Linked DNA regions of Homo sapiens. The protein of the gene in region 1 purifies or fractionates together with the protein of each later gene. This does not show direct contact. Each region holds a gene or a part of one and is shown on either strand. Other genes may lie near its edges.

Region 1 (3,518 bases):
AACCTTGTCCAGAGTCCCCTGTGTATCCTGCCGGCACCTCCTCCAGGGAGCCTCTGAGTCTTGCCTAGTTGAGCAGCAGCCCCCATCCCTGTCCTCCACAGCCTTCAGTGCAGTCCTACAGGGCAGCCTCTTCGGGCAGCTGGGCACCATGCCCTCCACCTACAGCACCCTCTTCCTCAGCGGCCAGGGCCTGGCTGGGATCTTTGCTGCCCTTGCCATGCTCCTGTCCATGGCCAGTGAGTGCACTTGGGTGGCTGGAGGGCTGGGGTGGCCTCTGAGGTTTGGGGAAGAGAGAGGGCATGTGAGAGCAAGACACATGGGTTCTGGGTGAAGATGGAGGTAAGCAGGTGATATGGAAATGGGGATTGGGTCTGGGGCTAGGGAGTGGGGCTCATGGGCCCTGCAGTGAGGAGTAATAACCAAGTGAGGACTGGGTTAACTCAGGGACAGGGGCAGGATTCCTGGGGCTAATACTGGCATGTGGCAGCAGGTTGAAGTTGAAGGATAAGGGGATGGGTTTGGGATTCAGATAGTCTTGGGTTTGAATCTGCTTCACCGCTTACCAGCTAGGGGTGTTGGACAAGGCTTGTCACCTCTCTGTGCTAGCTTCCCCACCGACGTGATTGGTATAGCTCCCTGCTCAGATTGTAATGAGCATGCAATGAGAGAAGGCTACTGGCACATAGTACGTGCTCAACAAAAATGACACATGGGGAAAGTGAGAGAAGTGCAGGGCTGCTCTGGGGCCCTGTACAAGATTCCCATTTGTCAGTGAAGGGAGGAGCGGAAGAGGCTGGGAGTGGGTCTGAGAAGTACACAATGGGAAGTGGGACAAGAGTTGGAAGCCCCGTGGGAGCCGGCGGGACCAGGTGCCTCTCTTCTGCAGCTGAAGTTCCTCCGCAGGTGGCGTGGACGCCGAGACCTCTGCCCTGGGGTACTTTATCACGCCCTGTGTGGGCATCCTCATGTCCATCGTGTGTTACCTGAGCCTGCCTCACCTGGTGAGCCTGCTGTTGGGCTCGAGGCCCCACCTCAAAGCATCTTGGATAGAGTCCTGAGCCTGAGGCCCTGAGAGAGGCCAGGGGAGGTGGAGGAGACCTGGTCTCAGCCCTGACCCCCAGAGAAGACACTGAGGGGCCCCAGCCTCCAGGCCAATGGTATGGGGAGGGATCCAGACACCTCAGGCAAGCCAGGCAGGCCCAACACTTTCCTGTCCTTCTGCAGAAGTTTGCCCGCTACTACCTGGCCAATAAATCATCCCAGGCCCAAGCTCAGGAGCTGGAGACCAAAGCTGAGCTCCTCCAGTCTGGTAAGCCCTGAGACCCTCCTGGGGAGGTGGGAGATGCAGAGGAAGCTAGAGCCACCTCCCCTGGGAAGCTGTTCCATCTGTTCCCAGCCAGAGCCCACCCCTAGTAGCCTTGTGCAAACAGGAAGATCATGAAGGGAAGTTGGTAGGATTAAAGTCATCCCTGCTGTTGTTTGGGCCTCAGTTTCCACCTCTATAAAATGGGGAGGCGACAGAGGTTCCATGCATGCAAACTTTGGATCCGAAGACCTCTGAATTGGAATACTAGTTTCACAACATCCCAGCTGTGTGGCCTGAGACAAACCACTTAGCCACTGCACCCCTCTGAACCTCAATGTGTCATTTGTAAAGCAATGGTAATGAGATAATCCATCTAAGGTGCTTCGCTCATCACCCGACCCATGCACGCGCTTCCTGGTAGCTATGCATATTTCCATCATGAATTCCCTTCGCCTGCAGCCTCAGCTTAGGCTGGAGGAAGATCACCTTTTTTTGTTTTGGGGTGAGGGGGTTGTTGTTATTTTGAGTCAGGATCTCACTCTGTCACCTAGGCTGCACTGCAGTGCTATCACAACTCAACTGCAGCCTCGACCTCCTGGGCTCAAGTGAGCCACCTCAGTCTCCCGAGTAGCTGGGACTATAGGTGCAGGCTGCCATGCCCGGCTAATTTTTTTATTTTTGTAGAAATGGGGATTCACCATGTTGCCCAGGCTGGTCTCGAACTCCTGGGCTCAAGCAATATGCCCGCCTCGGCCTTCCAAAATGTTGGGATTACAGGCGTGAGCCACCATGCTGAGCTGAGGATCACTTGTTTTAACTGCTGGGAATCTCCCTTCGTTGGGCCTGGCTGTCGGGAAACCTGGGTCACAAGCATGACCCTTCCCCGTCCCCCCTCACCCCAGATGAGAACGGGATTCCCAGTAGTCCCCAGAAAGTAGCTCTGACCCTGGATCTTGACCTGGAGAAGGAGCCGGAATCAGAGCCAGATGAGCCCCAGAAGCCAGGAAAACCTTCAGTCTTCACTGTCTTCCAGAAGGTTTGGCTTGGATACAGCCCCCAACCACCATCTTTGGGGAAGAATGGGGCTCACATTGACTCCAAGGTCATAGGGTCACAGTGGGTCAGGGACACAGCTGGGCCAGGCCCCAAGTGTCCTGCTCCCACATGGGGCTTGGGCAAGAGGGTGGGGCCCTGGGACTGCCCTGCCTGCTCACACCCCTGCCTCTGGCTCCCAGATCTGGCTGACAGCGCTGTGCCTTGTGTTGGTCTTCACAGTCACCCTGTCCGTCTTCCCCGCCATCACAGCCATGGTGACCAGCTCCACCAGTCCTGGGAAGTGGAGTGAGTGTCAGGGTGGAGAAGACGGCAGGGCAGGGGGTACAAAGGGGAGAGGACGGGAGAGGGGAGTTGGAGACCAGTATGAGCTGCAGCCGTTTCCCTCCCAGGTCAGTTCTTCAACCCCATCTGCTGCTTCCTCCTCTTCAACATCATGGACTGGCTGGGACGGAGCCTGACCTCTTACTTCCTGTGGGTAAGCACACCAGGGCTGGGTGATCCGATGTTTTAGGAAGCAGTTTGGGATCCGAGGGCTTGAAAGAGCATGGAGGTGATTTTCTGGTAGTCCAAATGGCCTGGTAATGCAACCACTGGCCAAGCAGCAGGGAGCACTTGGGCCCTGGAGGCGTGCAGGCCAGGGCTTGCACTGTGAGCTCCCTGAAAGCAAAAATCATGTCCAGCTGACCTCTGTGTCCCCAGCATCCAGCCTTTGCTGCTCAGAGAATGTTACATGGAGGTTCCTGCACCAGGTGAGGGACTGAGCAAGAGTCTTAGTTTTGGGGTTGGTTTTAGCCATGGTACTGTATCTTTAAATGAAATCTTCCAAAGAGACAATACATAACGCAGGTGAAAGAGGAGCTGGTCTCATCCAAGTCAGGACAGGAGCTGATCTACAGCTTCCAATCCCACTCAGAAACCCCATCTGCCCCCAAGGGGGTCTGTGGAACCACCAGTGGGTGCTCTGAGGAACCGAGTACGTAAACTGTAGATGCGGTGGAGAGCACAAGCTGGAGCCTGGGAGAGGCAGAGGTGAGCCCCAGGCCAGTCCCTGATTTCTGGGTGGACTTGGCCCAGGCCCCAGTGCTGGGTCCTCCCTCACTGGCTCACAAGGTAGGTCAGGTCAGAGGAGGTCAGGGGGTGACAGATGGGTCTATCC
Region 2 (3,143 bases), on another chromosome or scaffold:
TTTACAAACTTTCCCCATTTTAAAAACTAGTTACCAAACCCCTGGCAGAATGCTCAGGCCAGCCCCACTCAGCCAGCTCAGCTCTCCAAGTTCCCAGTCTCCTCCTTGCCTATTTCCAGCATCACAGTAAATTGGGAATATACTTGGAGGAAAAAGAGTCGGCTGCCTTCTCTGTGCTCAAGGGAGTGTCCACAATAGGCATTTTAGAGCTCCAGACCACCCAAGGACCACATCAAAGCTTAAAGTTCACCACAGTGAGCACGCTGGGACCTGGTGTAATCTTTCAAGTGCCAGCAGAAGGGAGGCTGGAGAAATGCAAAGGCCTGCTGGCCTGGAGATACCATTCATCCTCTCCTCAAGAGTAGAAGCCAGTTCTTGTAAAGAAACTAAAGTCCCTAGGTGGGAACATCATCAGCTGAGACAGCCTCCCCATCATCTCCTGAGAAGGATAAAAACTAAGGGCTCATAACCCCAAGGGATTGTGGCCTGCACTGTGTGTCTGCTCCTTAGCATTCTGGGCCCTCCTTGCAGGGTGAGGACAAAGGGGACCCGAGGCCATCACCAAAGGGTGGTTCTCAGGGTCCTGCTGTCACCCATTAAAGGCTGGTTCTAAGGAACAGTGTGACAAGTACAGCAAAGGCTAACAGTACACAGATTGTGACATTTTATATTCTTTGTTAAATGGTTCCTGGTACATGTTTTAAGTGCCTCTGCTTCTAGTTTAAATGAATGACCCAGACAGAGCTTTCAAGCTGTTTCTTAGAGAATGTGTGGTTGAGCAGAAATGGCTATCCACACCTGACACAGGTCCCCACCCACCTCACACCCTGGAGGCAGCAGCATAAGCCCCAGTTTCCACTATGGTGTCTCCTCAATGACCAGAATACCCGCCAGTTCCAGGGGTCAGCAATTCCATTCTCTCTCTCCGGCTCAGTTCAGAAGCTGTGATGGTCCTGTTAGAGAGCACTGCCTGCAGGTCAAAACCTGGAAGAGGCTCTCCCAGGCCAGGCGACAACCCTTCAGGTGCAGACGGGGAACAAAAGGCTTAACCTGTGATAATCCCAACACCTTCTGAAAAAAGAGTAACAGTCATCCAGCAACGGGCCATGGGTAGGGGCGGGCGGTAGCAGGGGACACTGTCCCCTGCCTCAGCATGTCCTGTCCAGAGGGTGGGCACAGATATAGGCTCGCTTCTCAAGGATCTGCTGGGACACTTTCTTAATCTGCTCATCTAGGTTTTCTGGAGCATCTGGGAAGGAAAAGGAGAGATGGTGGGTGATCTTTCTGCACCGTGATAAGACAAACATGGCTGAAGTGGGGGCATTTTTCCACAAAGTCAGCCCACCCACCATGAAGCAGCCCTAAGGGTGAACCCCTCCTCCAGACCCCCAGCAAGTGATTCAGGGCTGCAGGGAGAGAAAGGGGTACAGCTTCATTCTCAGTTACAAAGGACTCATCCTGCTCATCTCTAACCCCCAGATCTCATGGGGTGGAGCCGGCACTTGCTCCGTAAACAGCCCATCTGTGATTCCAGCCCACTGGAGGAGAAACCATTTCAGCACCCTCCACAGCACATAACCTGTCAGCACTGGGGGGGTGTCTGGGCTACCCCCAGGGCTAGGACCTGCAAAAAATCATATGCCACTCTCAGCAAGTGCCACAGTGCTGGCGCCTACACCCATCACTTGGCAACACGACTGGGCTTTGTGGGGACACTGATCCAGAACCTCAGGTCAACAGGACTGTGAGGGTCAGAGGTAGACTGAGCTGGGCATTCCTAGATATGGTCGAGTGGCTATAGAAGAGGAAGAGCACTGCAGACAGAGCGGGGAGCACGAGCAAAGCCCTCTGTTCTCTAGGCCAAGGCCTGAGACCTCTGCAGGGCACTGCAGGGTCATTTTGGATGGAGTACAGTGGGTAAAGGGGCAGGTAAAATGCTGTCTCCAGAATCAGGTACAACCAGATGCTCCTCCCTTCGTGAGCCTTCCCCGGGCAGCTTCAAGAATACAGCCAGGGCTGGGCACAGTGGCTCATGCCTGTAATCCCAGCACTTTGGGAGGCCAAGGTGGGCGGATCACCTGAGGTCAGGGGTTGGAGACCAGCTTGGCCAACATGGTGAAACCCTGTTTGTTTCTACTAAAAATACAAATATTAGCTGGGCATGGTGGTGCGTGCCTATAATCCCAACTACTCAGGAGGCTGAGGCACAGGAGTTGCTTGAACCCAGGAGGTGGAGGTTGCAGTGAGCCAAGATCATGCCACTGCACTCCAGCCAGCCTGGGTGACAAAGTGAGACTATGTCTCCAAAAAAAAGAGAATACAGCCAGGCATGCTGGGCAGATGCCAGGGGTCCTGCGCAAAGGGCTCTGCACTTGCTCAATCTAAAATTGCCTTGGCAGGCCCGGTGCGGTGGCTCATGCCTGTAATCCCAGCATTTTTGGAGGCTGAGGCAGGCAGATCACCTGAGGTCAGGAGTTGGAGACCAGCCTGGCTAACATGGTGAAACCCTGTTTCTACTAAAAATACAAAAAATTAGCCGGGCGTGGTGGCGTGCGCCTGTAATCCCAGCTACTCGGGAGGCTGGGGCAGAAGAATCGCTTGAACCCAAGAGGTGGAGTTTGCAGGGAGCCAAGACTGCGCCATTACACTCCAGCTTGGGCAACAAGAGCGAAACTCCATCTCGAAATAAATACATACATACATACATACACACACACACATATATACATACAACTGCCTTGGTGAATGGGGCAGGTATGCACCTACAGTGCCTGGTGGGCACTGCTGCAGCTAAGCCCAGGCCTACCCAGGCCCTCGCTCAAGGCAGAGGTCTGTGAGTAGCTAGCAGGCTCTGGGAGCTTGACAGGGTCCAGAAACAGCTCACCATCAATAGGGGCCTAGAAGTGGGCCCTTCCTTCCCTCCCCCAAGACATGCCACTCACACTTGTCCAGCTGAGAGAGGCTGAAGAGATTCTGCAAGTAAGCTTCCACGCAGAAGGTGTTGGCCAAGAGAACCTGCCAGAACCGAGGACAGAAAAGATATGCCCAAATTCCTGGAATCAGACCTCTGAGCTTCAAAAACCCAGCCTATCAGCCAAACTGGGTAGCATGGCAGGGGTCACAAGGCCTGGCACAGGAGTCAC
Region 3 (3,648 bases), on another chromosome or scaffold:
AGCTGGGCATCTGTGCCTTCCGCCAAGGCCTGACCAAGGACGCACACAACGCCCTGCTGGACATCCAGTCGAGTGGCCGAGCCAAGGAGCTTCTGGGCCAGGGCCTGCTGCTGCGCAGCCTGCAGGAGCGCAACCAGGAGCAGGAGAAGGTGGAGCGGCGCCGTCAGGTCCCCTTCCACCTGCACATCAACCTGGAGCTGCTGGAGTGTGTCTACCTGGTGTCTGCCATGCTCCTGGAGATCCCCTACATGGCCGCCCATGAGAGCGATGCCCGCCGACGCATGATCAGCAAGCAGTTCCACCACCAGCTGCGCGTGGGCGAGCGACAGCCCCTGCTGGGTGAGTGTGGAGCTCCAGGGTTCAGCAGGCTGCCTTGCTCCCTGATTACACATAAGGATTAAGAGAAGTGAAGGGAGTAACTCTCCCACCACTCGACTCCATCTGATTTAATGACACCTCCTCTGCCTGGCACTGTGCTAAGTGTTTTACAAATAATTATTTAATCTGCATTAGTAATAACCCTATGCCGGTAGGTACTAGTAATACCCTTTTTCCCAGTGGAGAAACTGAGGCACAGAGTAGTTAAGTGACTTGCCCGAGTTTAATGCAGCTCATGTGTACCTCTGATCTTTCTTTCCCTTTTCTTCCCTTCATGTACATTATATTCCAGCCAAACCAACTATCATAGAGCCTTATCGTTCAAGAGGCTAACGTTGATTCCTTTGGCCCCTTTTGAAAGACAGATCCTGCAGGGTTGCAGTGAGTGGTGACTCACTGGAAAGGAATTGAGCTGCGCCCTTCCTGTGACATTGGCCCACAGGAGGGCTTGACGAGTGAGCTGAGCCCAGTGTCCACAGCCACATCCCCCTACAGATTTGTCCTCTCCTGGTCATGTATATGTTTGGGCTAAAGGGCAGGTTCCCTTAGGCACATTTTGTTTGGCTTATGTAGTGAGATTTACTTTGTGGGGAAATTTCCCATGAAAATCGGAATTTTCATGTCTTAGAATATTGGCAGTCTGTCGCTCCTGGCCCTGCCTTCCTGCAGAGCTAGCCTTGGCTGGAGCTGAAGTAGCAGCGATGGGAAAGGGCTGTCTGCTTCTCCACAGTCCCTGCCTCTCAATTTCTCCCTACAGTGGTTCCAAAAGCCAGTTTCCATCAGCCCTGCACTGTTGTTCGGCCTATAGAGAAATATTCTTTGAGCCCCTAAACTTGCCTTTTTCTTTCTTTCTTTCTTTTTTTTTTTTTTTGAGACGGAGCCTCACTGTTGCCCAGACTGGAGTGCAGTGGCGCAGTCTCAGCTCACTGCAACCTCCACCTCCTGGGTTCAAGTGATTCTGCTGCCTCAGCCTCTCGAGTAGCTGAGACTACAGGCCCCCGCCACCATGTCCAGCTAATTTTTTGTATTTTTAGTAGAGATGGGGTTTCTTCATGTTGGCCAGGCTGGTCTCGAATTCCTGACCTCAGGTGGCCCGCCCACCTCGGCTTCCCAAAGTGCTGGGATTACAGGTGTGAGCCACTGCGCCCAGACCAACCTTGCCTTTTGCAAGTGTTAATATGGTTAAAATGGAGGTTCATCCAGGAGGGCTGTGTGCCTCTCCTTACACTCTTAACACTTAGCCCTGCTCCTATGGTTCCATTTGGACCTGATCCCCGTTCGCATTGAGCTTGCCGTTCTTGCTGTGGAGTCTGCGTGTTTGTGTTTCACTGTCTGCCACCCATTTCTAGCCGTAGAACTTTTGCACTTTGTCTACCCTGAATTCCAGTTACTATGGCGTACCATGTCTTACCTTCCTGGCTTGTCTTAGGATTGTATTTGGGGGCCTGAGTTCATAATTAATATATAAACTTGTGATTTTAGAGATAATTTTGACCGGGGCTAAGTTTTTTAAGGAAAAGAAGTGAGCTGCTTGGAAGAATAATAAGCTGGCAACAGTGTAATTGATGCATGGGCATGGCACCATTCATGAAGGTGATGTGAGTGAGGAAGGGTTGGTAAATTCCATTCCAGTTGAGCTGGAAGAGGTGGTTTGGTTTTGTTTTGTTTTGTTTTTTGAGACAGAGTCTCGCTCTGTAGCCCAGGCTGGAGTGCAGTGGCAAGATCTCAGCTCACTGCAAATTCTGCCTCCCGGGTTCAAGCAATTTTCCTGCCTCAGCCTCCCGAGTAGTTGGGATTACAGGCGTGTGCCACTATGCCTGGCTAATTTTTGTATTTTTAGTAGAGACGAGGTTTTGCCATGCTGGCCAGGCTGGTCTCCAACTCCTGACCTCAGATGATCCGTCTGCCTTGGCCTCCCAAAGTGCTGGGATTATTACAGGTGTGAGCCACCACGCCTGGCTGGAAGAGGTGTTTTTAGGTCAAGGAAGCTTACGAGAATCTGATGAAAGCCATGGGCCTTTTTCCTAGGAAGAATGTACATGAGGACATGTGCACAATTTGTCAACATTTTTGAGGGTTTCGGCAGTCCCCTGAAGTGCATCTATGGACTGATTGAGTTCAAACATTTGTGCAGATGGAGTGGCTTGGGCGACTACGTGGCTGTTTGGTGGAGAGGCGGGGAGAGTCTCTAGTATGGTTTGCTCCTCCAGCCTCTGTTCCTCCTTAAAGAGTGCTAATGGAACTTGTCCCAAGTTCCCTAGGCCCTGCCTCATTCCCACCCTTTCAGGTCCCCCTGAGTCCATGCGGGAACATGTGGTCGCTGCCTCCAAGGCCATGAAGATGGGTGACTGGAAGACCTGTCACAGTTTTATCATCAATGAGAAGATGAATGGGAAAGTGTGGGACCTTTTCCCCGAGGCTGACAAAGTCCGCACCATGCTGGTTAGGTGAGCAGACAGAGAGGCCGTGATGGGTCGGGGAAGAAGAGACTGGTTGGTCCCCTTCCCTGAGGCCCTGTTGTGTCTTCTGTCCCCTCTTCCCACAGGAAGATCCAGGAAGAGTCACTGAGGACCTACCTCTTCACCTACAGCAGTGTCTATGACTCCATCAGGTAGGCGGGGCCCTGGGGACACAGAAGGGCCCCAGCCTTGTGGGCAAGTGTCCTGACTGCCCCTGCCCTCTGCCTTCTTTCTTCCCAGCATGGAGACGCTGTCAGACATGTTTGAGCTGGATCTGCCCACTGTGCACTCCATCATCAGCAAAATGATCATTAATGAGGAGCTGATGGTAGGGGCCGGGGTGGGAAGCGGGCAGGTGGAGCCATGGAGGGATTGGAGCGTAGGGGCCGGGGTGGGAAGCGGGCAGGTGGAGCCATGGAGGGATTGGAGCAGAGGGGCCTGATCTGTGTCGTGTCCCCTCCTCTGCCTTGGCGCCTGTCAGGCCTCCCTGGACCAGCCAACACAGACAGTGGTGATGCACCGCACTGAGCCCACTGCCCAGCAGAACCTGGCTCTGCAGCTGGCCGAGAAGCTGGGCAGCCTGGTGGAGAACAACGAACGGGTGTTTGACCACAAGCAGGGCACCTACGGGGGCTACTTCCGAGGTGAGTACTTCGGCTCCTCTCCTTGCCCACTCCTGGTGCCCTCACCGCCTCTCACCTGGCATTCCCTGCCCTTCCTTCCCATCTCTCTCCTACAGACCAGAAGGACGGCTACCGCAAAAACGAGGGCTACATGCGCCGCGGTGGCTACCGCCAGCAGCAGTCTCAGA

What was found.
Region 2: the proteins of SLC29A2 (region 1) and ACAD9 purify together in Homo sapiens (affinity purification with mass spectrometry; one large-scale study listed by BioGRID and IntAct). This does not show direct contact.
Region 3: the proteins of SLC29A2 (region 1) and EIF3CL purify together in Homo sapiens (affinity purification with mass spectrometry; one large-scale study listed by BioGRID and IntAct). This does not show direct contact.

Annotation. Positions count from the first base shown.
Region 1 is NC_000011.10:66,365,255-66,368,772, reverse strand, and holds part of SLC29A2 (equilibrative nucleoside transporter 2), read left to right. Parts: intron 1-101; coding exon 102-236; intron 237-903; coding exon 904-1,001; intron 1,002-1,224; coding exon 1,225-1,309; intron 1,310-2,208; coding exon 2,209-2,342; coding exon of another isoform or gene 2,343-2,541; coding exon 2,542-2,647; intron 2,648-2,751; coding exon 2,752-2,837; intron 2,838-3,518. UniProt on the Homo sapiens protein: Bidirectional uniporter involved in the facilitative transport of nucleosides and nucleobases, and contributes to maintaining their cellular homeostasis. Functions as a Na(+)-independent, passive transporter.
Region 2 is NC_000003.12:128,910,613-128,913,755, reverse strand, and holds the end of ACAD9 (complex I assembly factor ACAD9, mitochondrial), read right to left. Parts: intron 3,016-3,143; coding exon 2,943-3,015; intron 1,250-2,942; coding exon 1,149-1,249; 3' UTR 642-1,148; downstream 1-641. UniProt on the Homo sapiens protein: As part of the MCIA complex, primarily participates in the assembly of the mitochondrial complex I and therefore plays a role in oxidative phosphorylation.
Region 3 is NC_000016.10:28,379,809-28,383,456, reverse strand, and holds part of EIF3CL (eukaryotic translation initiation factor 3 subunit C-like protein), read left to right. Parts: coding exon 1-339; intron 340-2,665; coding exon 2,666-2,825; intron 2,826-2,923; coding exon 2,924-2,989; intron 2,990-3,077; coding exon 3,078-3,165; coding exon of another isoform or gene 3,166-3,192; intron 3,193-3,243; coding exon of another isoform or gene 3,244-3,279; exon of another isoform or gene 3,280-3,318; coding exon 3,319-3,481; intron 3,482-3,576; coding exon 3,577-3,648. UniProt on the Homo sapiens protein: Component of the eukaryotic translation initiation factor 3 (eIF-3) complex, which is required for several steps in the initiation of protein synthesis.